3 linked regions of the Homo sapiens genome follow. The main gene of each other region encodes a partner of the protein of the gene in region 3 in a complex. Each region holds a gene or a part of one and is shown on either strand. Other genes may lie near its edges. A codon is read from its position in the direction of its gene.

Region 1 (7,101 bases), on a different chromosome or scaffold from region 3:
CCCGTAGAGGGGTCATGCCACTGCCTCAAGGCCCTCCCTATGCAGCCCCCTGCCTGCTGCAGAGCTCCCTGAGGGGCTGTCCCCAGGATGGCTGGGTGGGACCTTCATCCCTCCGAGGCTGAGAGGAGAAGAGCCCCGAGCTGCCAGGAGGGCCAGACTCACGCATGGTGTCCTGGGAGCCGTGTCACCCCAGGCACGAGCCCCACCTCCCATAGGGCTGCAACCCCCTTGCTGCTGTGTGTCCATCTCCCTACAAAGGGCCTGGACCAGGCAGGCTGCAGACACCATGGAGTCCCTGGAGGCAGCGTGGTCCCCACACCCCCGTGGGCCAGGACTAGGCAGCCTCACCGTCACTCTCCCAGCAGAAGGGGCCCTCGACTCCTGGCTCCCTCAGAGCATAGCAGCCCTGCCTCCCTCCCAGAAAGGGAGCCAAAGGCCAGAGCAGAGGGGAGTGGAAGCCAGATCACCATCAGTATCATTTTTATTGCAAATCAGTTAACAAAAAAGATGAAAAAAATACATCATCTACAGTTCCTCATGTAGATCACTTTTAAAGTCTTTTTCTGTAAACTACACTCTATTTTATAAAACACAGTAAAAATCAACATCTTGGGACGCATCTGGTCATGCCCCCTGGGGATGGCACCACGCGGCCCCCGTAGAGCCGGGGGAGGCTGCCCTGAGGAGTGCAGGCGGCACGGCAGCGGAGCGTCCCCAGTGCATGGGCGGCTAAGGCTCCCCGAGCTGAGCCAAGTCTGACGTCCCTCACTGGCATGACACACAACAGACTCATTCATTAAGATTTTTTAAACAAAATCCACCTTTAAAAACATATTTACAGACATTTTTTCTGCCATAGGCTATACTTGGTATTGCAAAAATCTGCTCCTCCCAAACTAGGAGGGGTGGCCCAAGGGCAGCCCCCGCCTCCCTCCAGCCCCTGCCCGACCGCATGCCCCCTGCCAGGGCTGCGGGGACAGGACCAAAGGACGCAGCCCACGGCGTTGCACAGCTCAATGTGCCCGGCTCTGGCAAGTCTCCTACAAAACACGGGAGCCCACGGGGGGTCGGGTCCCGCGAGCTGGGGCCCAGGCTGTGTTGCTGGAGCATCTTCTTCGGAACCTGGGGGACACTGTGCAGGCTGAGGTGCTGGGGCCGCCACCGGGGTCAGCCCAGGCAGTGTCTTTCCCCAGAAAAGGGTAGGATGCCTCCGTGTGTGACCCAGGCAAGTGCCACAGTCCACACATCTCATGTTTGACATGCATGATGCCTACATTTCAAGAACGGGCAGGGGGCCGGGGTGGTTCTGGAGGGACCAAGAACTTGTATAACCAACGAACAACTACATAATACTGAACCTGAAACAAAGATTCATGATTGGTACCATGGGTGCACTCTTGGCATACACACTCCGAGAACACATTTTCACAAGCATGCTTGCAAGAAACCATCTAAAACACATGGCAACATCTAACCCATATGCTTTCACTTGTTTCCTATTTCAGATGCAAATTAATCCGCGTGCGGAAGGTGAGCCAGCTTTGCCTCCGTTTGCCTCTGGATGCAGCTTCTCCTAACAGGCAGGTGATGCTGGTGGAGCGGCCGGGCTGGCTTGGGGTTGGGTGGGCGTCGGGGAAAGGGCGCGGCCTGGACGCCCCAGGAGCTTTTTGGACTATGCTCGTTCAACTTCCCTTCTCCAACATCATTTCTTTTTGGATTTTGAAAAAAGGAATCAATAAATAAATGGCATTTATAAATCATGAATCTTTGTTTATATTTTATAAACACAGAAGAATCTTTTCATCCTACGTAGGAAAACCCTGGCTCTCAGAACTTGCTTGTTTTCTCAGAATAGATAAAAGTTTCTACCTGGGGCCAGATAAAACAGTACATATAAATAAAAAGGCAGTGTTTCTGTGTAAAATAAAAGTACATAAATAAATACTAAAAAAAATTAAAATCCTCGTTCTTATTTTGTATAAAAACATGTGTTTTAAAAAGGCTCCTCTGGTCGGCCCTGGCATCCACAGAGCGCACACAGACGCCCGAAGGCTTGGGAAAGGAAGCCGGGGTCTCGTGGGGCGCGCCGTTTACTTGAAGGCCTCCGGAATGCGGGCGATCTGGGACTGCATGCTGGTGGGAGGGCTGGAGACGCCCTCGGACCAGTCGGAGACGTTGGAATGCGGGGACGAGCTGGACCACTGGTCAGGGGACTCAGGGGACGGGGTGAGGAAGGGGTGCTCAGGCACCTGTAGCTGGTGGCTGGGGGTGTTGTCCACAGGCGAGGAGTAGCTGTGCTGCGAGGGGGGCGTCAGGAACTGGGCTGCGGTCACGGGTGGGACCAGCGAGGATGGCAGCGACGTGGGCAGGGCGGGGCTCTCCTGGGGCAGAATAGTGTGCACCGCCAGGCTGCTGGGGCCCAGTGGCTGCACGTCTGCCTGGCTCGGCTCTCCACTCAGGAAGCTCCGGCCCAGGTGGCCGCTGGCTGCTGAGCTCACGCCAAGGTGCGGCTGTGGTGGTGGTGGTGGCGGCTGCAGGCTTTGCTGCTGCTGGATGTTTGCTGGCTGCAGGTTCTGCTGCTGCATCTGTAAGTTTTGTGGCTGCACCTGCTGGGTCTGCACCAGGTGAGGCTGGGTGGCCAGCCGGGTGCTGGGCAGGCCCTGGTAGCTCATCATCTGGGACAGGGCGCTGGCAGCAAGGCTACTGTGCAGCGGGCCTACCATGCCATGCTGCAGGGAGGGGGCCTGTGTGCTCAGGGGGCCTGGTGCCACACTCCCCCGCAGAGGGTTGTATTGGTTCGGCACCATGCCGCTCTGCAGCCGGGACAGCCACTCGCATTGACCATTCAAACTGGTGGACCCGCCCACAGTGAAATTCAGGGCCCCTCCGCTGCTGGAGCCCAGGACGGTGCTGGTGCCAGAGGCCACAGGCAGGTGGGAGAGACGAGGTGGGCCAGTCTCAAAGGCCAGCCGGCCGCCCCCACCCAGCGCCGCCATCTCGGGCTTGGCCGCCACGTTCAGGTGCCCGATGCCCAGGTGGGTGTCGGGCATCCCAGGCAGGTGGTTGAGGGGCACGGACGGAGACTGCTGGAACGGGGAGGGCAGCAGTGGCGGCGAGGCCACGTCTGACAGGTAGCCATGGGGTGACTCCAGGGAGTCCACGGGCGAGAGCATGCCGGAGCTGTCCAGCAGGCAGCCCTTGCCGTCCTGGGACTTCTTCCTCCGTGCCTTGAGGTCCTTGGCCTCCTTGCTTCCACAGGCCAGGCCTTTGCTGCTGGGCTTGCGGACCTTCTTGCCCTGCACGCCGGGCTTGAGGCTGCCCAGGTAGCCGTTGGGCGAGCAGAGCGGGGGCGACAGGGTGGGCGTGCCCCCCAGCGGGGCTCCGTGCAGCTGCGGGCTGCGCACCAGGTTGTACTCGTCCAGCAGCCTCACGATGTCGTGATGCATGCGCTCCTGTGCGATGTCGCGCGGCAGGCGGTCCATATGATCCGTGATGTCCCGGTTGGCAAAGTGGTCCAGCAGCACCTTGGCGGTCTCGTAGCTGCCCTCCCGGGCGGCCAGAAACAGGGGTGTCTCCTCCTGGGGGATGAGGGCGGGGGCCGGTGAGGGGGGCCAGGCCAGGCGTGGGGACCCTCCCCAAGGTTCCATCACCAGAGGAAGCAGCAGTACAACCTCCTCCGCGGGGTGGGGGCAGGCAGGCTGCTCCTCAGGACCCCACCCCAGCGTCCTGCAACCACCTAGCCTGACTCTTGTTAAATGTTAAGGCTTTGATACATCTTCTGAAACCCACCCAGAGAGGGGATCTGTGCAGTCCTCTACCCTAGATCAGCGGGGCTCCACCTCTATGGGGGGGTCACAGACCCCACTGAAAATCTAACCAACTGCAGGCCCTCTTCCCTGCCCCCAATAAGGCACAAAAGGAAATTCCTGGAGCGGTTCAGAGGCACCGGCGAGGGCACCAGGGAGGGAGCTCGTCATCTGGACGGCCATCAAGCCACCCTGGTGGCCACCAAGCTCCTTCCTGGGGTCTCCTCTGTGCGGTGGACACGTCACAGGTCTGGGTGAGGCTGCTGTGTGGGAGTGGGAAGGGGCTTCCCAGGCCTTGATGCCCTCTGGGGCCCAGTCTCTGTGGGGCCATGCTGCCACGGACTGGGGAGCGCCTGGGCCAACATGCCCCGGTGCCCAGGCCCGCTGTGTGCCCTCACCCAGGAGGGAGAGACGCCTGAGCCTGACATGCCAAGGGGGCAGCAGGAGTTGGGGGCGGGGGTGGGGGTTCTGGCGGCAGGGAGGTGGGGGTGTCTGCACCTGTGCCCTGAGCACCCAGGGGAAACCAACAGCAGCTGCAGGGCCAGGAGCTGCAGGGCCAGGATGAGGGCTGGGGGTGGCTCCCCTTGGATATAGTCCTGAGACTTCTTCCTCTGAGCCTTGAGGTCCTTGGCCTTGGTGAACACACCAAGAGGCCCCGCCCCGCAGGGAGCTGCCGCCACGCGTGTTCTGGCTCAATCTGCACCACCTGCGTCACCACATTCCCATCCCCACCCCCGCCTGGTGACAGCTGGGGACAGAAGGTGAGGTCCAGGTGACGGTGACACAGCAGTGGCAGCAGCAGCGTTCCCCACGCCAGGCTGTGTGCCCCGCCATGACTGCCGCCCAGGAGGGTAGGGCTGGGTCTGAGGGGCGAGCCGCCGTGTCCTGACAGCTGGACCTGCACTTGGAAGGGCTCCATAAACGGGGGCTGAAGGAAGGCAGGAGCACTAACGAGGTGCCCGCATCATGCGGGTGGGGCCCACATGCGGGCCCAGCGACCCTCGAGACCCTGTGGGTCAGGCCCTTGTGTCCCTGCGCCCCGTGGGTTTGGCCCTCACTTCTCTGTGGATTCAGCCCTCACGTCTCCCCTGGCATCCCAGCCTCGCGCTCACCCTGTTGTTCTGCATATCTTTGTTAGCCCCGTTCTTCAGGAGCACAACTGCGGCATCCACATTGTTCACGGCGGCGGCCCAGTGCAGGGCGGACTTGCCTGCGTGAAAGAAGCAGATGGGGTAGGTTGGAGACCAGCTGGAGGCAACCCAGTCCCACCCGTCCCTGTGGCGGTCCCGCCCCACGACAGAGCAGCCGTGCCCCCGTGGGCTCACCCAGGTCATCTACGGCGTTGACGTCGGCGTGTGAGTTGATGAGGTCCTCCAGCATGCCCTCCACGGCCAGGCGGGCAGCCAGGATCAGTGGCGTCGTGCCATCATGCATGCGGGCATCCAGGTCTGTGGCTCGGTTCCGGATCAGGATCTGGGCAACAGGGAGAGGCTCAGGCGGGTGCTGGGCAGACGTACACCGATGCCTCCTGCCCAGAACGAACGCCTGGACGGGAAGCCCCACTGTCTTCCGGACACAGACGAGACCCTCCTGAGATCGGCACGGCCGGGCAAGACGAAACGCCATGGGGCTGCCCCTGAGGAGGGGCCCGGATGGGGGCAGGGGCTGTGCTGCCCACAGACAGGCCCCTTGGTGACAGTGGGATCCATCGTGACCACGTGTGGCCTCATTTAATCCTCACTGTGGTCCTAGCTGCCATGACCACCTACAAAACAGAGAGGTCAAGTCCCTGCCCCCAACGGCGGTTACAGCTGGCACTCAGGAAGCCGGGCTCACGGCCCTACAGCCGTCTCAGAACCGCCGAGCTAGTGTCCGGCTCTGCCCAGAGAGGGGGTGGGCAGCCCTTGTAATGCAGCCGGGTCTTGGCATCTGGCAGGAGGAATGGCCCCTGCTCACTGGCGGGTGCAAAAGGCAACTTGGCCTGATTCCTGCAAAGCACCTGGGAACTTCCACATCTGTGCAAAGAAGGCAGCTGAGAGAGGCACACACCAAACCCGCACGGGGCTCCCTTCCACGCTCTTTCTGCTCACCTACATTTATTTCTGCGAGATGACAATGTGTCACCTGAGCTAAGAAATCAGGAAATGAGAAGCTCTGTGGTAACTCCCCGGGCTGTGCCCATCTGAACCTGCTTGCTCCAGGGCCGCCTGGAGCCTGGGGACTCGCAGCAGGGGTGACTGCAAAGGCAGCCCCTGCCAGGGACACTCCCTGGAGACCCAGGCATCCAAATCCCTAAATCCATTCTTGCCACGAGCTCACCGGCAAGCTGAGCCCTAGGTCTGCAGGCACCGAGCGGCAGCCTCTAAACCCTGCTTCTCACTGCCACAGGCTACGCCGGCAGCCAAGGTTGAGGGAGGGGCGGGGCTGCGAGGGGCTGCAGCAGTGGAACCTGGACCTTGAGCAAGGCCCACAACCCTGATGGAGCCTGTTTTGCTGGGGGTGGGGAGGTGCTGCCTCACTCAGCAGATCCCCCAGGCCTCCTGCCAGACCCGCCTCTGCCTGACTTCCCTGGAGAACACAGATGGGCCCGACGCCCTCCCCCTCGCACCTCGCTGACTGCGAAGGTCCCAGGTGGAGGCACCAGTTGTCCCGGACTCAGCTGTGCTCGGGGTCAGGCTCCCAGGGCCACGTAAGCCTGGCCACTGCCCCAGACCACCAGGCGGCCCTGAGGAGGGCAGGTGGGCACACAGGCAGCCACTGCCTACCTGGAAGACACCTTGTGCGTCGGCAGACACAGCCGCATGCAGCGGGGTGCGGCCCATGTTGTCCTGGATGTTGGCATCTGCGCTGGCCTCCAGCAGGCGCTTGGCGGCATCAGAGCGTGAGTAGCGGGCGGCCAGGTGCAAGGCGGTCTCGCCCGTGCGGTCTGTCTGGTTGTGCAGGCTGGCGCCCTGGTAGATGAAGTCGGAGATGACGGCCGGCGCGTCCTCCTCTTCCTCGCTGTTGCCCGTCTCCAGGCCGCCCCCGCTGCAGGAGGCGATCATGAGCGGGGTGAAGCCATCTGCAGAGGCAGAGACGGGTGCTCAGTCTGGAGGGCCGGTCCCCAGCTGCAGCCCAGGGGGAGGGGGGCAGCAGCCCCAAGCTCAAGGGGCCACGGTGTGGATGCACCACCCAGCACTTGGTGGCCCCGTGCACACAGCCACCAAGGGGCAGCTGAAGTCCGCCTGGGCTGCTCAGTGGACAGAGCCGAATCCAGCTTAAACTCCTGGCGGGCAACTGCTTCCTGACCTGCCCA
Region 2 (7,101 bases), on a different chromosome or scaffold from region 3:
TGAGTGTCCCGGGGGTGTGGGTGTCCCGGGGGTCGTGGGTGTCCCGGGAGTGTGGGTGTTCCAGAGGCGAGGGTGTCCCGGGAGTGTGGGTGTCCCAGGGGTGTGGGTGTCCCGGGGGCGTGGGTGTCCCGGGAGTGTGGGTGTCCCGGGGGAGTGGGTGTCCCGGGAGTGTGGGTGTTCCGGAGGCGAGGGTGTCCCGGGAGTGTGGGTGTTCCGGAGGCGAGGGTGTCCCGGGAGCGTGGGTGTCCCGGGGGCGTGGGTGTCCCGGGAGCGTGGGTGTCCCAGGGGTGTGGGTGTCCCGGGGGCGTGGGTGTCCCGGGAGTGTGGGTGTCCCGGGGGAGTGGATGTCCCGGGAGTGTGGGTGTTCCGGAGGCGAGGGTGTCCCGGGAGTGTGGGTGTTCCGGAGGCGAGGGTGTCCCGGGAGTGTGGGTGTCCCGGGGGCGTGGGTGTCCCGGGAGTGTGGGTGTCCCGGGGGCGTGGGTATCCCAGAAGTGTGAGTGTCCCAGGGGCGTGGGTGTCCGGGGGGCGTGGGTGTCCCGGGGGTGTGGGTGTCCCGGGGGTCGTGGGTGTCCCGGGAGCGTGGGTGTCGGGGACTGCAGGGACATGGGCCTCCCCTCCCACTCCTGCCGCCCAGGGCACCTCCTGTGAGGACTCGGAGTCCGTGAGTTCCCACCTCCTTGAGCCCGATTCTTTGGTGTCCCCGCCTGCATCCTCAGCCTCCTTCCAAACCAGACCAGTTCTCTAGGGGCGTCGACGTGTGAAACTGATTTTAAAGAAAACAGGCAGTGGCCTTTCTCTCGGCCCCACGTGGCCCAGTAGCGCTCACCTTCCGTCCCTTCTTCCGCGCTCAGTAACCAATTTAGGCCGCTCCTGCAGAACTCGGGCTCCTGCCCACCGGCCCACAGCGTCCACCTGAGGCCTCGTCCTCCCAGCAAAGGTCGTCCCTCCGGAACGCGCCTCCTGCGGCCTCTCCAGAGCCCCTCCCGCGCGTCCTCTCAGCCCCGCTCGCCTCCTCCCGGGGCCTCCCTCTCCCGCCTGCCCCCAGGCCCGTCTCCCCTCGCGGGCTGAGGCAGGTTCGGGCAGCACGGCCGCCCCGGGGCGGGGGTCACTCTCCACCACCGCGTGGTGCCCACAGCTCACGGCGCTCCCGGGTGACGGTCCCCTCGGCTGTAGGGCGTCCTGAAGAGCGGCCTGCTCGGAGCTGAGCGCACGGGGTTGCCTCGCCCTGGGCGTCTCTGGCCCTCACCAGCCCCGTCTTCCCATGGGCAAAACGGCGGTCCTGTTTGTCCACAAGTAACCGTCGGGGTTACGGAGGGGCCAGGAGCTGCGGCGGGGGGCTGTGCTCTCAGGACCGGCCCCAGGAGGATCCGCGCGAGGTCTGGAGCTCTCAGGGGTCGCGGGGGACAGAGGGGCCCCAAGCGGAGGCGGGGAAGGCGGCAGAAGCCCAGGACCGCCAAGAGCTGGCGAGGAAGCCCGGGGCTCGCTGTCGGGGGAGCCGGGCAGGGGCCGCGCCTCGGACCAGGACGGAGGCCTGGGGAAGGCGGATCTGGCCGCCGGAGACGCGGTGCGGGTGGAGACGAGGGATTTGGATTTCCGCGGGCGGCTGTACGGATTTCCACGCGCGGTTCACGTGGGCCCCAGGGGGTTGCCCGGCACCCGGGGCCGCGCCGCCTTCTCCTCGCCGGCATCGACCCGCAGCCTCACGTTTACGCGGCGGCGCCCGCAGCCCCCTTCGGCCCGGCTTCCGCGCGTGCCCCCGAGCGCGCCCTCGGGATCAGCCCCCGGAAGCAGAGAGGCCAGGCCGGGAAGGATGGGCGACGGGGGTGGCTGACCCGGGAGCACGGCAGGGAGGACACCCAGCCAGGCCCGCGAGCAGCGCCGCTCCCCTCCTCCAGGACGGGCGGGAACCTGCGATGCCCCCGCCGCGTGGGCCGTGGGGCGGTCTCCGAGGCACTGGGCGGGGCACGCGGTGGGCGCTTCACGGAACTCGCATTTCCCAGTCTTCGTAACCCAGGAGGAAGCCCACGGCGTCCTGCACCGGCGCCGGCGCGCCAACGCGTTCCTGGAGGAGCTGCGGCCGGGCTCCCTGGAGAGGGAGTGCAAGGAGGAGCAGTGCTCCTTCGAGGAGGCCCGGGAGATCTTCAAGGACGCGGAGAGGACGGTGAGCCCAGCCTCGGGGCGCCCCGCGCCGCGGACACTGCAGGCGGCGGTGAACCAGGCCGCGTGGGGCCGCCTGCGTCTCTTTGGCTGCGGCTGTGGGCGGCGAACACGCAGCGGCGCCCGCGCGGCGCTTTCTGCGGGGGTCGCTTTCCGCCCGGGGTGACTCCGCTTTCCTGGGCGATGCCCCCCACCCCCAGGCACGCGCTCTCCCCGTGCGGCCGCACCGCGCATGCCGGTTTTCACATCAGAAAATACGATTTGCAAAGCACACTTAGGGTGTCCCCCTTAACTTCCCAAGGGAGTCCCCCCAGTCCCCGAAGGGTCCAGGGCAGCCTGCGCATCGCAGACGCGCGCGGCTCGCAGAAGGGACGTGGTGAGAAGCTGGCCCACAGCATGCCACCAGCGGCACCTCCTCAGGGCACGTGTCGGGGAGAAACAACACTTAGGGACCTGGGACTTTCTCCAGCTCACGCTCACGGGTCACCTCACACTCCAAGATCACCTCAAAGAGGACACCTCACACAGGGCACACTTCACACTCACAGGTCACCTCACACTCACAGGACACCTCACACTCACAGGGCACACTTCACACTCACGGGTCACCTCACACTCCAAGATCACCTCAAAGAGGACACCTCACACAGGGCACACTTCACACTCACAGGTCACCTCACACTCACAGGACACCTCACACTCACAGGGCACACTTCACACTCACGGGTCACCTCACACTCCAAGATCACCTCAAAGAGGACACCTCACACAGGGCACACTTCACACTCACGGGTCACCTCACACTCACAGGACACCTCACACAAGACACCTCACACGGGGCACACTTCACACTCACAGGTCACCTCACACCCACAGGACACCTCACACAGGGCACACTTCACACTCACGGGTCACCTCACACTCACAGGACACCTCACACAAGACACCTCACACGGGGCACACTTCACACTCACAGGTCACCTCACACCCACAGGACACCTCACACAGGGCACACTTCACACTCACGGGTCACCTCACACTCACAGGACACCTCACACTCAGGGCGCACTTCACACTCACGGGTCACCTCACACCCACAGGACACCTCACAGAGGTCACCTCACACAGGACACCTCACACTCAGGGTGCACTTCAAACCCACAGGTCATTTCACCTCACACTCACAGGACACCTCACACAAGATACCACACGGGGCACACTTCACACTCACAGGTCACCTCACACTCACAGGACACCTCACAGAGGTCACCTCACACGGGGCACACTTCACACTCACAGGTCACCTCACACCCACAGGACACCTCACAGAGGTCACCTCACACCCACAGGACACCTCACACAGGACACCTCACAGAGGTCACCTCACACCCACAGGACACCTCACACTCATAGGTCACCTCAGTCTTACAGGACAACTCACACTCACAGGTCACCTTACTCTCACAGGACACCTCACACTCACAGGTCACCTTACTCTCACAGGACACCTCACTCTCACAGGACACCTCACACAGGGCACACTTCACTCCCACAGGTCACCATACCTCACACAGATCACCTCATACTCACAGATCACTTCATTCTCACAGGATACCTCACACTCAGGGCACACTTCACACTCACAGGTCACACCTCACACAGATCATCTCATTCTCACAGGACACCTCCCTCTCACAGGTCACCTCACACTCACAGGACACCTCACAGAGGTCACCTCACACCCACAGGACACCTCACAGAGGTCACCTCACACGGGGCACACTTCACACTCAGGTCACCTCACACCCACAGGACACCTCACAGAGGTCACCTCACACCCACAGGACAACTCACAGAGGTCACCTCACACAGGACACCTCACAAAGGTCACCTCACACCCACAGGACACCTCACACTCATAGGTCACCTCAGTCTTACAGGACAACTCACACTCACAGGTCACCTTACTCTCACAGGACACCTCACACTCACAGGTCACCTTACTCTCACAGGACACCTCACACAGGGCACACTTCACTCCCACAGGTCACCATACCTCACACAGATCACCTCATACTCACAGATCACTTCATTCTCACAGGATACCTCACACTCAGGGCACACTTCACACTCACAGGTCACACCTCACACAGATCATCTCATTCTCACAGGACACCTCCCTCTCACAGGTCACCTTACACTCATCTCACACTCACAGGTCGCCACACCTCACACTCACAGGATGCCTCACACTCACAGAACCACATCTCATATGCACAAGACACCTCACACTCAGGACACCTCATGCTCAAAGAAGCCTCACACTCACAGGAGGTCCAGCTGTCTGAGGCAAAGGCTAACATGACCCTTTCCAGACAAATTGAGGATGGTCATGCCTAGCATTTTTATACACCTAGTTTTGAAAGCATTTCTCATCTGTTGTATTCTCACAGCACCCCGTGAGTTTAAGTTCAGGTGGCCAACAGTTTCTTCAGCAATCACTTTTTTCTGTGGAGTGCTTTTGCTGTTTGTGGAATATTTTGCATCTGCTACTGCACCCTCTCCCCGTATGTGTGGCCACCCTGTCAGAGGTGGAGCTGTGGCTCAGAGCCTGTGTACCTCGTCCCAGGTCCACAGCTCAGCGACAGAAGAGTCAGGGTTGAACCTCGGGTGTTCTGACTTGGGAGCAGGAAATGTGTGGTCACCCATAGTTCCAGATGTCCTGGGGAGGGGCCAAGATTAGAAGAAACCTACCTCAGCTCCAGAGGAAAGTCTGGCTTCCTGAGCCCACCCCGCCAGACCCAGGTCCAAGTCCCCCAACCCCAGTTCATGGTGTGTCCAGTGCTTACCGTTGGGTGCTCTGGTGAAGGTGCATCTCACGAGGCTTGCTCTCTTGTTCCTTCAGAAGCTGTTCTGGATTTCTTACAGTGGTGAGTGGATGATCACCACCAGTCCTGCCTGCAACCCTTCTCAGCTTACTGACACCAGCCCACTCCACAGATGGGGACCAGTGTGCCTCAAGTCCATGCCAGAATGGGGGCTCCTGCAAGGACCAGCTCCAGTCCTATATCTGCTTCTGCCTCCCTGCCTTCGAGGGCCGGAACTGTGAGACGCGTAAGGCCCCACTTTGGGTCCCATATTTGCAGAGGGCCCTGGGGAGCTGGTGGAGGTGGCCTGGCCAACCGGGCTGCAGGGTGCACAACCTGGTGGGGTGTGTAGGCCGGGCATTCAGGGCTCAGCCCCAGTTGGAAATTGGTCTAGGTGACCTTGAAATCCCTTCCAGTCTGAGGTCTTTGACAGGGACCCAAGGTTCTGATTATCAGACTCAGTGGCCCCTTGGGCTCCCGGCCCTGGGCAATTCTCAGCCCTCGAGATGGCCCAGCTGAGAGTCCCTGTGTCCCTGTCCCACTTCCACATCCCACCACGCAGGACCGCTTGGTAAACTTCCCCTTCTCTACTTTCCATTACAAAGGTTTGAGGGGTTTGTTTTTTTTTTAACCATCTGAATATTAAATTATCACAAAGTTTGAGGCCCCCAACCTCCCTTGGGTTCAGTAATTCACTAGAAGGACTCATAGAATCCACTGAAGTGGATACACTCACAGGTACCGTTTATTACAGCAAAGGATGCAGGCTTAAGTCTGCAGAGGGACCAGGCACAAGCTTCCCCTTGTCCTCTCCCTGTGGGGTCATGTGGACAGTCCTTAATTCTCCCAGAATGACGTGTGACGAGACGTGGGAAGTACTGCCAACTTGGGAAGCTCTACGAGCCCCGGTGTCCAGAGGTTTTATCAGGGCTCAATCACATAGACCCAGCTGACCACCCGCATGGCTGACCTCAGTCTCAGCCCCTCCAGAGGCTACGCCGATAGTGCGGCCCAAGGCCCCACCATACATCACATTGTCAGCTAGACCATCCAGCATGGCTCAAGGCCCAGGTAAACACCAACATTCCCTCAGGCAAGACCTTCCAAGGGCTTAGCGGTCATTTCCCAGGAGCCAAGGCAAAGGCTACCCTTTCTCTGGCACAGCAGTTCATCCTTGACCACCCAAGACCACATTCTTACACTGAATGAGCTCTCCTGTGCAGCAGCCATTTTCTTCTCTAAGCAGAAGAGAGCCCAGCAAGCTGGAGGAGGCTGAAGAGAGAGGCTTCCTGCTGGTCATCTGGGTCCAGAATGCCTGGAGATCTCTGCTCAGCCCTGGTGCCCAGCAGCCCTGGTGTGCATCCTGCAGGGCAGGCCTTCCCGCCGGAGTCCTGGACTTGCTCAGGGCCACTCCCCTTGCCCATGTCAACCAAAGTCAGGCTGCCGGTTCTGCTTCTTCTGTCTGAGCCCATGACCAGTGCTGGGACTAACTGTCCCCAGGCGGGCTCACGGTGGTACGAGGCCAGCTTGGAGAACTGTCTCAGCTCTCTGGTCCTCTCGTCAGTTGGGTCTCTGATTGGAAAGTCCCTTGGACACTTTTACCATCCCCATTGGACTTTCACTTTCCCCCAGGCTCCCATCAGCTGCTCGGAAGAGTGGTCACCCTGGAGGCCACTGCCCACCAGCCAGGCACCCCCCAAATGCAACCGCAGCCAGCACTGCCAGCCACTGGCAAGGCTGTTCAGACATGTGGCTCCTCTGATCCACGCCTTGTCCTTTGGATCAGTCCACGGAGCAGGTGGTGCCAAGCTCAGGCTCTGTCACCCACAGCTCAGTGCCACCTTCCAGGCAGAACACCACTGCTGACCCAGGGCATGGCCACCCCGGGGGCTGGCTCTCGCTGACCCCCAGAAGCCCCTCTCAGGGTGTCCCCTTCCTGTCCCCAGACAAGGATGACCAGCTGATCTGTGTGAACGAGAACGGCGGCTGTGAGCAGTACTGCAGTGACCACACGGGCACCAAGCGCTCCTGTCGGTGCCACGAGGGGTACTCTCTGCTGGCAGACGGGGTGTCCTGC
Region 3 (8,014 bases):
AGTGAGGGAGCCCAAGTCATGAAGTCATGCGTCAGCATCCAACCCTGCGCTTATTGTTTGCTAAGAACTAGACAGATGCTGTGGTTACAAAGCGAATACCACAAAAGCTCAGAGTCTAGTGGAAGAGAGGCGACACTAAGAAAATACAGTAATTACCATTTGTTACAATATTAAAAGTGTGTCCAAGGTCCAGAGATAGCATGTAACACTAACGAATTCTGTGGGATGGTGGTGATGTCAATACCAAGAAAAGCTTTGCAGAGAGCTTGGGGTTTCAGCCAAGACTCCACAAAGGCATAGGGGCTTTGTGGGAGAATGGCAGTCCTCCTGGAGAAGTGGCAGATAAAAAGGTAAAGATCTGTGAGCAACGTCATCTTGAGTTCAGGAATTGACAATAGTTTGGTATTAGAAGAAGATAAGAGTGTCAAAAGGAGCATTTGTGTAATCTTTCACTCCAGAGATTTTAATCTCCTTAATAGAAAGTTGTTTGTATTGATTGAATGATTAACCTTTATTAAGAATTTTGTTGTGTCAGGCACTGGATTAGTAGCTTTACACATTTCATTTAAATCTCACATTTTGATAGCTTCTACTATGGTTATTATTTTACAGAAGAAACTGAAGTTAAGAGAAGTTAAGTAGCTTGTTGAAAATAGCCTGCCTGGCCAGGCAGGGTGGCTCATGACTGTAATTCCAACACTGGGAGGCCAAGGCAGGAGGATCACTTGAGCCCAAGAGTTTGAGACCACCCTGAGCAATATAGTGGAACCTTGTCTCTATGAAAAAAGTAAAAAAATAAATCGGGCATGGTGGCTCACACCTGTAGTCCCAGCTACTTGGGAGGCTGAGGTGGGAGGATCACTTGAGCCCTGGAGGTCAAGTTTGCAGTGAGCCGAGATTGTGCCACTGCACTCCAGCCTGGGCAACAGAGAGAGACCCTGTCTCAAAAATAATAATAATAATAATAGAAAAAAAAGAAAATAGCCTGGCTAATAAGAGCCAGAACCAGAATTTAGAGCCAGAATGACTGATATCGAAACCAGTAAAGTTGCTAATATTCCCAAATATTCCTAATGTCCTAATGTACCACAGAGCTGTCACTTAGGAATACACACAAGTCTCCAACTTAGGATGGTTTGACTCACAATTTTTCAACTTTATGATGGTGCAAAACCAACACTCATTCAGTAGAAACTGTACTTCCAGTACTCGTACAACCATTCTGGTTTTTTTTTCATTTTTAAATACAGTCATGTGTCCCATAATGATGTTTCAATGAAAGACCACATAAATGATGGTGAGCCCATGAGAGTATAATAAAACTGAAAAACTCCTATTGCCTAATGATGTAGCTGTCTTTATGTTGTAGTGCAATGTATCCTGGTGTACACAAACCTGCACTACCAGTTGTATAAAAGTATAGCACATACAATTATGTACAGTATAACATACTAAATAATGATAATAAATTACTTTGTTACTGGTTTATATATTTACTATACTATACATTTATTGTTATTTTAGATTGTACTCCTTCTACTTATTTTAAAAAAATGAAAGTTAACTGTAAAACAACCTCAGGCAGGTCTTTCAGAAGGTATTCCAGAAGAAGGCATTGTTATCCTAGGAGATGGCAGTTCCATGTGTGTTCTTGACCCTGAAGATCTTCCAGAGGGACAAGATGTGGAGGTGAAAGATGGTGATATTGATGATCCTGACCCTGCATAGGCCTGACCCAAACACACACGTGTGTGTTTGCATATTAGTTTTCAATAAAATAGTTTAAAAAGTAAAAAACAAAATAAAACATTTTAGAAATAGAAAAAAGCTTATAGAATAAAGATAGAAATAAAGAAAATAGGTCGGATGCAGTGGCTCATGCCTATAATCCCCACACTTTGGGAGGCCAGGAGTTTGACAGCAGCCTGGCCAACATGGCGAAACCCTGTCTCTACTAAAAATACAAAAATTAGCCAGGTGTTATGGTGTACACCTGTAATGCCAGCTACTCAGGAGGCTGAGGCACGAGAATTGCTTGAACCTGGGAGGCAGAGGTTGCAGTCAGCTGAGATAGCACCACTGCACTCTAGCCTGGGCAACAAAGCGAGACTGTCTCAAAAAAAAAAAAAGAAAAGAAAAGAAAGGAGGGAGGGAGGGAGGAAGGAAGGAAAAGAAAGAAAGAAAAAATATTTTTGTATGGCTGTACAATGTGCTTGTGTTTTAAGCTAAGTGTTATTACAAAGTCAAAAAGTTGAAAAAAAAAGGTTTGTACAGTAAAAAAGTTACAATAAGCTAATTTATTACTGAAGAAAGAAAAACGTGTTTATAAGTTTAGTATGGTCTAACTGTACAGTGTTTATAAAATCTATAGTAGCGTAATGTTCTAGGTGTTCACATTTACTCACCACTCACTGACTTATCCAGAGCAACTTTCAGTCCTGCAAGCTCCATTCATGGTAAGTGCCTTATACAGGTGTATCATTTTTACTCATTTACTGTACCTTTTCAATGTTTAGATACACCAATACTTACCATTGTGTTACAATTGCCTGTAATATTCAGTACAGTAACATGCTGAATAGGTTTGTAGCCTAGGAGCAATAGGCTATGCCAAATATCCTCAGTATGTAGTAGGCTATACTAGCTAGGTTTGTGTAAGTATAATCTATGATGTTCACACAACAAAATTGCCTGACACATTTCTCAAAACATATTCCCATTGTCAAACAACACATGACTGTACTGCACACCTTCCTGGAAGTAGAAAAATTTTTGACTAAAGTTTCATTTGGATTCCAGAAGAAATATGCTATAGTTTTGGATATACATTTTTTTTCCTGTCTGTTCACCCAAAGTGAGCCTCACTCATACAAAAACTGGGTGGTTCTGCCCTGGTGGAATATAGACCAAATGCCCATATGGGTGTAATATGTGACCGATACGGCCCATTCCTAGGTAATCAACATTATTTTCTCTTCCACCATTCCTTAACGTGCATCCTAAAGCCTCCACTACTGTCAAGCTAAATTTGATCCCCACCTTCTGCAAATTATGGCTCCCATATTTTTAGTGACTCCAGCACAATATTCCTTAACTGTAACGTTTCCTTTTCTTCAGTACAAAATATACCCCTCCTACCCCTTTCTCCAGATTTCCACTTCATATTGATCTTTTCCTCCACTGAAACCAGTGGCACTTAACTATTGCCTTAAATTGTAAACTATCTCTAAGGAAGCATATTTGTCTTCCCTACTAGTTCTAAACTCCTGGGAGCACAGATTTGATCTTGTACTTCCCTGTATTTCCATATTTCCACAAGGCTTAGGGATATAACCATGTACATTTTAGAAAATAGATAAATATTGCTGGGCGCAGTGGCTCACGCCTGCAATCCCAGCACTTTGGGAGGTCGAGGCTGGTGGATCACCGGAGGTCGGGAGTTCGAGACCAGCCTGACAAATATGGAGAAACCCCATCTCTACTAAAAATACAAAATTAGCCGGGTGTGGTGGCGCAAGCCTGTAATCCACCTACTCAGGAGGCTGAGGCAGGAGAATTGCTTGAACCCAGGAGGCGGAGGTTGTGGTGAGCCGATATTGAACCATTGCACTCCAGCCTGGGCAACAAGAGCGAAACTCCATCTCAAAAAAAAAAAAAAAAAAGAAAATAGATAAATATTTGTAGTTCTATGATTACTAAATATATCTACACTGACCTATATATACCTGTATAAAGATATATACCTGTACTATACTATATACCTATATTGTCCAGTATCATGTTGCCCACTGTCAAGAAACAAAATTTCATCAAATTTAGTTTAAAGTTCTTGGCCAGGCATGGTGGCTCACGCCTGTAATCCCAGCACTTTGGGAGGCCGAGGTGGGCAGATCACCTGAGGTCAGGAGTTTGAGACCAACCTGGCCAACACGGTGAAACCCTGTCTTTACTAAAAATACAAAAATTACCCGGGCATGGTGACACACTCCTGTAATCCCAGCTACTCGGGAGACTGAGACAGAAGAATTGCTTGAACCCGGGAGGCAGACGTCATAGTGAGCCAAGATTGTGCCACTGCACTCCAGGCTGGGCAACAGAGTTAGACTGTCCTCTGTCTCAAAAAAAAAAAAAAATCGAATTGGCTTTTATTAGTGATTCATGAATCAGGCAGCATCTCATCTATAAAACAGAAAAGTGTTCTAATGAGCTGAGCAGAAGGGGTTGGGCTTATAGGCAGAAAAGGGCTGAAGAAAGCAGAAATAAGGAACAAAAAGCAGATTGGTCATTTTGAAGTTACTTTCCTCAAAGAGTTACATCAGAGGGGACTTCTTTATCATGCCAGCTCAGGTATATGGGCCCCTTCTCCTATTTGTTGGAAAACTGACCCCTTTTAAAGCTGAGTTTAATTACGCAGCACCTAGGACAAGTTGCCTCCATTCTGGTTTTGTCTGCTCTCTTGAGGCCTAGTGCCAGAGTTCTGTCCAAAACAACGACCTCCCATAAACTTTATTTAACACCATTGATCTTTTTTCCTACGTCTAAGTCACCCCAACTGTTATAAATTCCTATTACAAAGGGATCCCTGCTATGCTAATTGCAACCTTTGGGGTCTAACCGTGCTGTACACACACACACACACACACACACACACACACACACATGCTCAACAAATTTATGCTATTTGATAAGAGGCAATTTGACGTCAAGAGAAGAACTGTTTGGCCTAGGCTCTATGCCAAGTCTTGGTTGTGCCACTAACCGTGAAACATACCCTCTCTGACCTTCAGTTTTCTGGCTGCAGACCTATTTTCCCAGGGGTGCCAGGGAGGGAGGATAGGCAACTGGTCCATTCGTTTATCCTCCCCACCTTCCCGGCGCAGCCTTCTCAGGGAAACTCCGCCTCAAGGCTGGGGACTGGAGGAAGGGTGGTGGGGCCACGGTGGCCATCTTTGTGCGGGGCGACCCGCCGCCCACGTGCTGCGGCTCCCGGGCCATCTTTGTGCGGGGCCGCGCTTCCGCCAGCGCCGCAGCGGGGAATCTGCAGTAGGTCTGCCGGCGATGGAGTGGTGGGCTAGCTCGCCGCTTCGGCTCTGGCTGCTGTTGTTCCTCCTGCCCTCAGCGCAGGGCCGCCAGAAGGAGTCAGGTGGGCTCCGGGCAGTGCCGAGCCTGCCCCTTGGGCTCGGGGTCTGGCCGGAGTCCCGAGGCGCTCCCCCGCGCGGCCGGCTCCCGGGAAGATGCCGTGGCCGCTGTAGCTCGGAGCTGGGCAGAAGGCACCGGGGCGCCTTGCGGCGGAGAGTGAGGTGCCGGGGTCTCTGCTCCTGCTCTGGACCCTGGAGAGTAACCCATTCCCCGGAATTCAGAATGACAGGGAGGAGAGGGAATTCCCCGTTCACCCGCAGGAGGCGTGGCCCGTGCTTGGCTACTCTGGACCTGCCTGAAACACTGAGGGGTCGGGGATGGGGGCAAATGTCGTGCGCGCGAGCGTGTGTGTATATGCGTTGCCAGAAGAGAAGAGGGGTTTAATGTCTGTAGCTTTTAACTGATCCTCTTTGTGGAGTTCAATTTGATTAGTAGAAAGTGAGAGTCCGCGTCACTATCCATAGCATTCTGAGGGTTGAGCATTAAGCTTGGGAATTTTCCAGTTTCTTGGACACCTGACAGCCGGATAGAGGAACAGACTTGACGTGAGCGTGGGAGTTGCACACACAAAAATTCCTCCCTAGCGTTTCGTTTCCATCAGTGGGATGGGAAGGGGATTTCTGAAAGTTTTGGTCTTCTGTTTCTTCTGTTGGTGTGGTGTCAGCAAATAACATTCAGGAAAATTTTTTTAACTCTCATTTACTTCACTTTTTAAAGGTTCAAAATGGAAAGTATTTATTGACCAAATTAACAGGTCTTTGGAGAATTACGAACCATGTTCAAGTCAAAACTGCAGCTGCTACCATGGGTGAGTTCTTTTCTTTGATGTGTCTTTGAGAGTTTAGTTGCTGTCACAGGAAGTATTCTAACATCCTTGAGAGATTTTGGTTGCAGTGGTCAGAAAGGCAAGGATGTTTTTCTATTTCTGGGGAATAAAAATGCTCTCGCATGGGAAAGGCTCAGGTGGTGTCAACCTAACCACTGACTCACTGCGGGATTCAGTGCATGTGCATCTGTTTTTCCCACTGGGCTGCAAGCTTCCTGAGGTCAGGGTCTGTGTCTTATTTGCTGTTGTCTCCCTGGTGCTAGCTGTCAGTGCGTGCTCGATAAATATTGTTGAGGAAATAAACCCATCTATCGCTGAATCTAGTCCTAAATTTCCTGATGGTTATCTTTAGAAAATGCACATCAGGCTGGGCATGGTGGTTCATGCCTGTAATCCCAGCACTTTGAGAGGCCAAGGCAGGTGGATCACCTGAGGTCAGAATTTCGAGACCAGCCTGGCCAACATGGTGAAACCCTGTCTCTACTAAAAATACAAAAATTAGCTGGGCATGATGGCACGTGCCTGTAATCCCAGCTACTCGGGAGGCTGAGGCAGGAGAATCGCTTGAACCCGGGAAGCAGAGGTTGCATTGAATCCAGATCATGCCACTGCACCCCAGCCTGGGTGACAGAGTGAGACTCCGTCTCAAAAAAGAGAGAGAATGCACATCAGGGCCGGGATGAGGTATGGTAGAAAGATAACTCTGAAAACAGACTTGGGTGTTGGTGCCGGTACTCCCACTGGTTACCCCTGTGCCGAGCCACTTCAACTCCTCTGGGTCTCAGATTCTTCATCAGCTAAATAACAGGGTCTTTTAAGCTCCTTTTTATGTTATTTTTGACTCCTCAAAAAATTCCTTGGATGCTTATGATACTTATTGAAAACTTACTATGCACTCACTTTAAAAGGAATACAAAATAGTGTAATTTTGGTTACTGCTGTCACGCTACCAGAGTAAGGGCTTGTGGGGGAGAGTGTGGACCAGACAGACCAGAACAAGAGAGTCAGTGCTAGACTGTAAGGCGTAAACTTCACCTCCTGTGGGATTGGGAGGAGATGCCAGGAGGACTGAAGTGACTAGAAGGACACAGGTGTGGCATGAGTAGCGAAAGAGAAATACAGAACTGCCAAGGGAGGGGCAATCCAGATGGAAGGAGGAAGAAGAGACATTGACCCGCTTTTTACTTTTTATTGCTTTATTGCATTTGATGTTTCAGATTACCTACAGGGCTTCTAGGGAAGAGCTGCTCATTCTCACTCTCGATTCTTTCCTTCCACTTACTGTGTTCTCTAATACGAAACCTAAATGCACTTAGGAAGTAGGTGGAATGGCACCACTCTCTTGGCCTGCTTTCCTTGATGACTCCCATTCTTTCCCAGTGTCATAGAAGAGGATCTAACTCCTTTCCGAGGAGGCATCTCCAGGAAGATGATGGCAGAGGTAGTCAGACGGAAGCTAGGGACCCACTATCAGATCACTAAGAACAGACTGTACCGGGAAAATGACTGCATGTTCCCCTCAAGGTAAGAGTTAACGAGGTAGATATATCTTCTGACTTTATTACATATGGGCTTGATACCCTTTTATAGAGGAGCCAATTCATGGGACTAACAAGCAGATCCCTCCTCACATTTCAGGCGGACTATGAAATAGTGACGAGCTCTTCTCCTTGCCTGGGAATTTTTCTTGCGAGCTCCTCTCAAAGCCTGTCTCCTCTGTGAGGCTTGGTTCATCACTGGTTGTACTGGTGGTGGCTCTGCCTCTTCTGCTCCTTCCCTGGGATATAGTAGCGGCAGGACACAGGCTGATGAGGCCTAGCAGGCCTAGCAGGAGGGAGCTAGGCTGAAGGAGGAAGAGGAATTGGTTGAATGTCTGTCATCGGCCAGTGTAGTTCTAGATACTGAATATTCAAGGGGAGGTGGTAGAGTCAAGAGGAGTAACTAGATGGGGTGGTGGTGGCTCACACCTGTGATCCCAGCACTTTGTGGTGGATTACTTGAGCCCAGGAGTTGGATTATGGCAAATAATCCGGCAGTGGCAAATAATAC

What was found.
Region 1: the proteins of POGLUT1 (region 3) and NOTCH1 are in contact, whole or in part, in a crystal structure (PDB 5UB5), measured with the Homo sapiens proteins. Residues at the interface, in NP_689518.1 of Homo sapiens: Met103 (codon at 7,476), Phe104 (codon at 7,479), Pro105 (codon at 7,482), Ser106 (codon at 7,485), Arg107, Asp133, Gly170, Pro171, Ala172, Val173, Trp174, Pro178, Thr179, Gly180, Thr214, Asn239, Gln240, Ala241, Val274; in NP_060087.3 of Homo sapiens: Asn454, Glu455, Cys456, Val457, Asn459, Pro460, Cys461, Gln462, Asn463, Asp464, Ala465, Cys467, Gly472, Glu473, Phe474, Val485, His486.
Region 2: the proteins of POGLUT1 (region 3) and F7 are in contact, whole or in part, in a crystal structure (PDB 5L0S), measured with the Homo sapiens proteins. Residues at the interface, in NP_689518.1 of Homo sapiens: Met103 (codon at 7,476), Phe104 (codon at 7,479), Pro105 (codon at 7,482), Ser106 (codon at 7,485), Arg107, Arg132, Asp133, Pro171, Ala172, Trp174, Pro178, Thr179, Thr214, Asn239, Gln240, Ala241, Val274; in NP_000122.1 of Homo sapiens: Asp108, Gln109, Cys110, Ala111, Ser112, Ser113, Pro114, Cys115, Gln116, Asn117, Gly118, Gly119, Cys121, Gln126, Ser127, Tyr128, Arg139, Asn140.

Annotation. Positions count from the first base shown.
Region 1 is NC_000009.12:136,493,981-136,501,081, forward strand, and holds the end of NOTCH1 (neurogenic locus notch homolog protein 1 preproprotein), read right to left. Parts: intron 6,868-7,101; coding exon 6,572-6,867; intron 5,280-6,571; coding exon 5,132-5,279; intron 5,017-5,131; coding exon 4,919-5,016; intron 3,579-4,918; coding exon 2,091-3,578; 3' UTR 453-2,090; downstream 1-452. UniProt on the Homo sapiens protein: Functions as a receptor for membrane-bound ligands Jagged-1 (JAG1), Jagged-2 (JAG2) and Delta-1 (DLL1) to regulate cell-fate determination.
Region 2 is NC_000013.11:113,108,690-113,115,790, forward strand, and holds part of F7 (coagulation factor VII isoform b precursor), read left to right. Parts: intron 1-2,000; coding exon 2,001-2,161; intron 2,162-5,062; coding exon 5,063-5,087; exon of another isoform or gene 5,088-5,157; coding exon 5,158-5,271; intron 5,272-5,312; exon of another isoform or gene 5,313-6,079; coding exon of another isoform or gene 6,080-6,095; intron 6,096-6,270; coding exon of another isoform or gene 6,271-6,378; intron 6,379-6,970; coding exon 6,971-7,101. UniProt on the Homo sapiens protein: Initiates the extrinsic pathway of blood coagulation. Serine protease that circulates in the blood in a zymogen form. Factor VII is converted to factor VIIa by factor Xa, factor XIIa, factor IXa, or thrombin by minor proteolysis.
Region 3 is NC_000003.12:119,463,964-119,471,977, forward strand, and holds the start of POGLUT1 (protein O-glucosyltransferase 1 precursor), read left to right. Parts: upstream 1-4,999; 5' UTR 5,000-5,058; coding exon 5,059-5,143; intron 5,144-5,856; coding exon 5,857-5,947; intron 5,948-7,345; coding exon 7,346-7,489; intron 7,490-8,014. UniProt on the Homo sapiens protein: Dual specificity glycosyltransferase that catalyzes the transfer of glucose and xylose from UDP-glucose and UDP-xylose, respectively, to a serine residue found in the consensus sequence of C-X-S-X-P-C.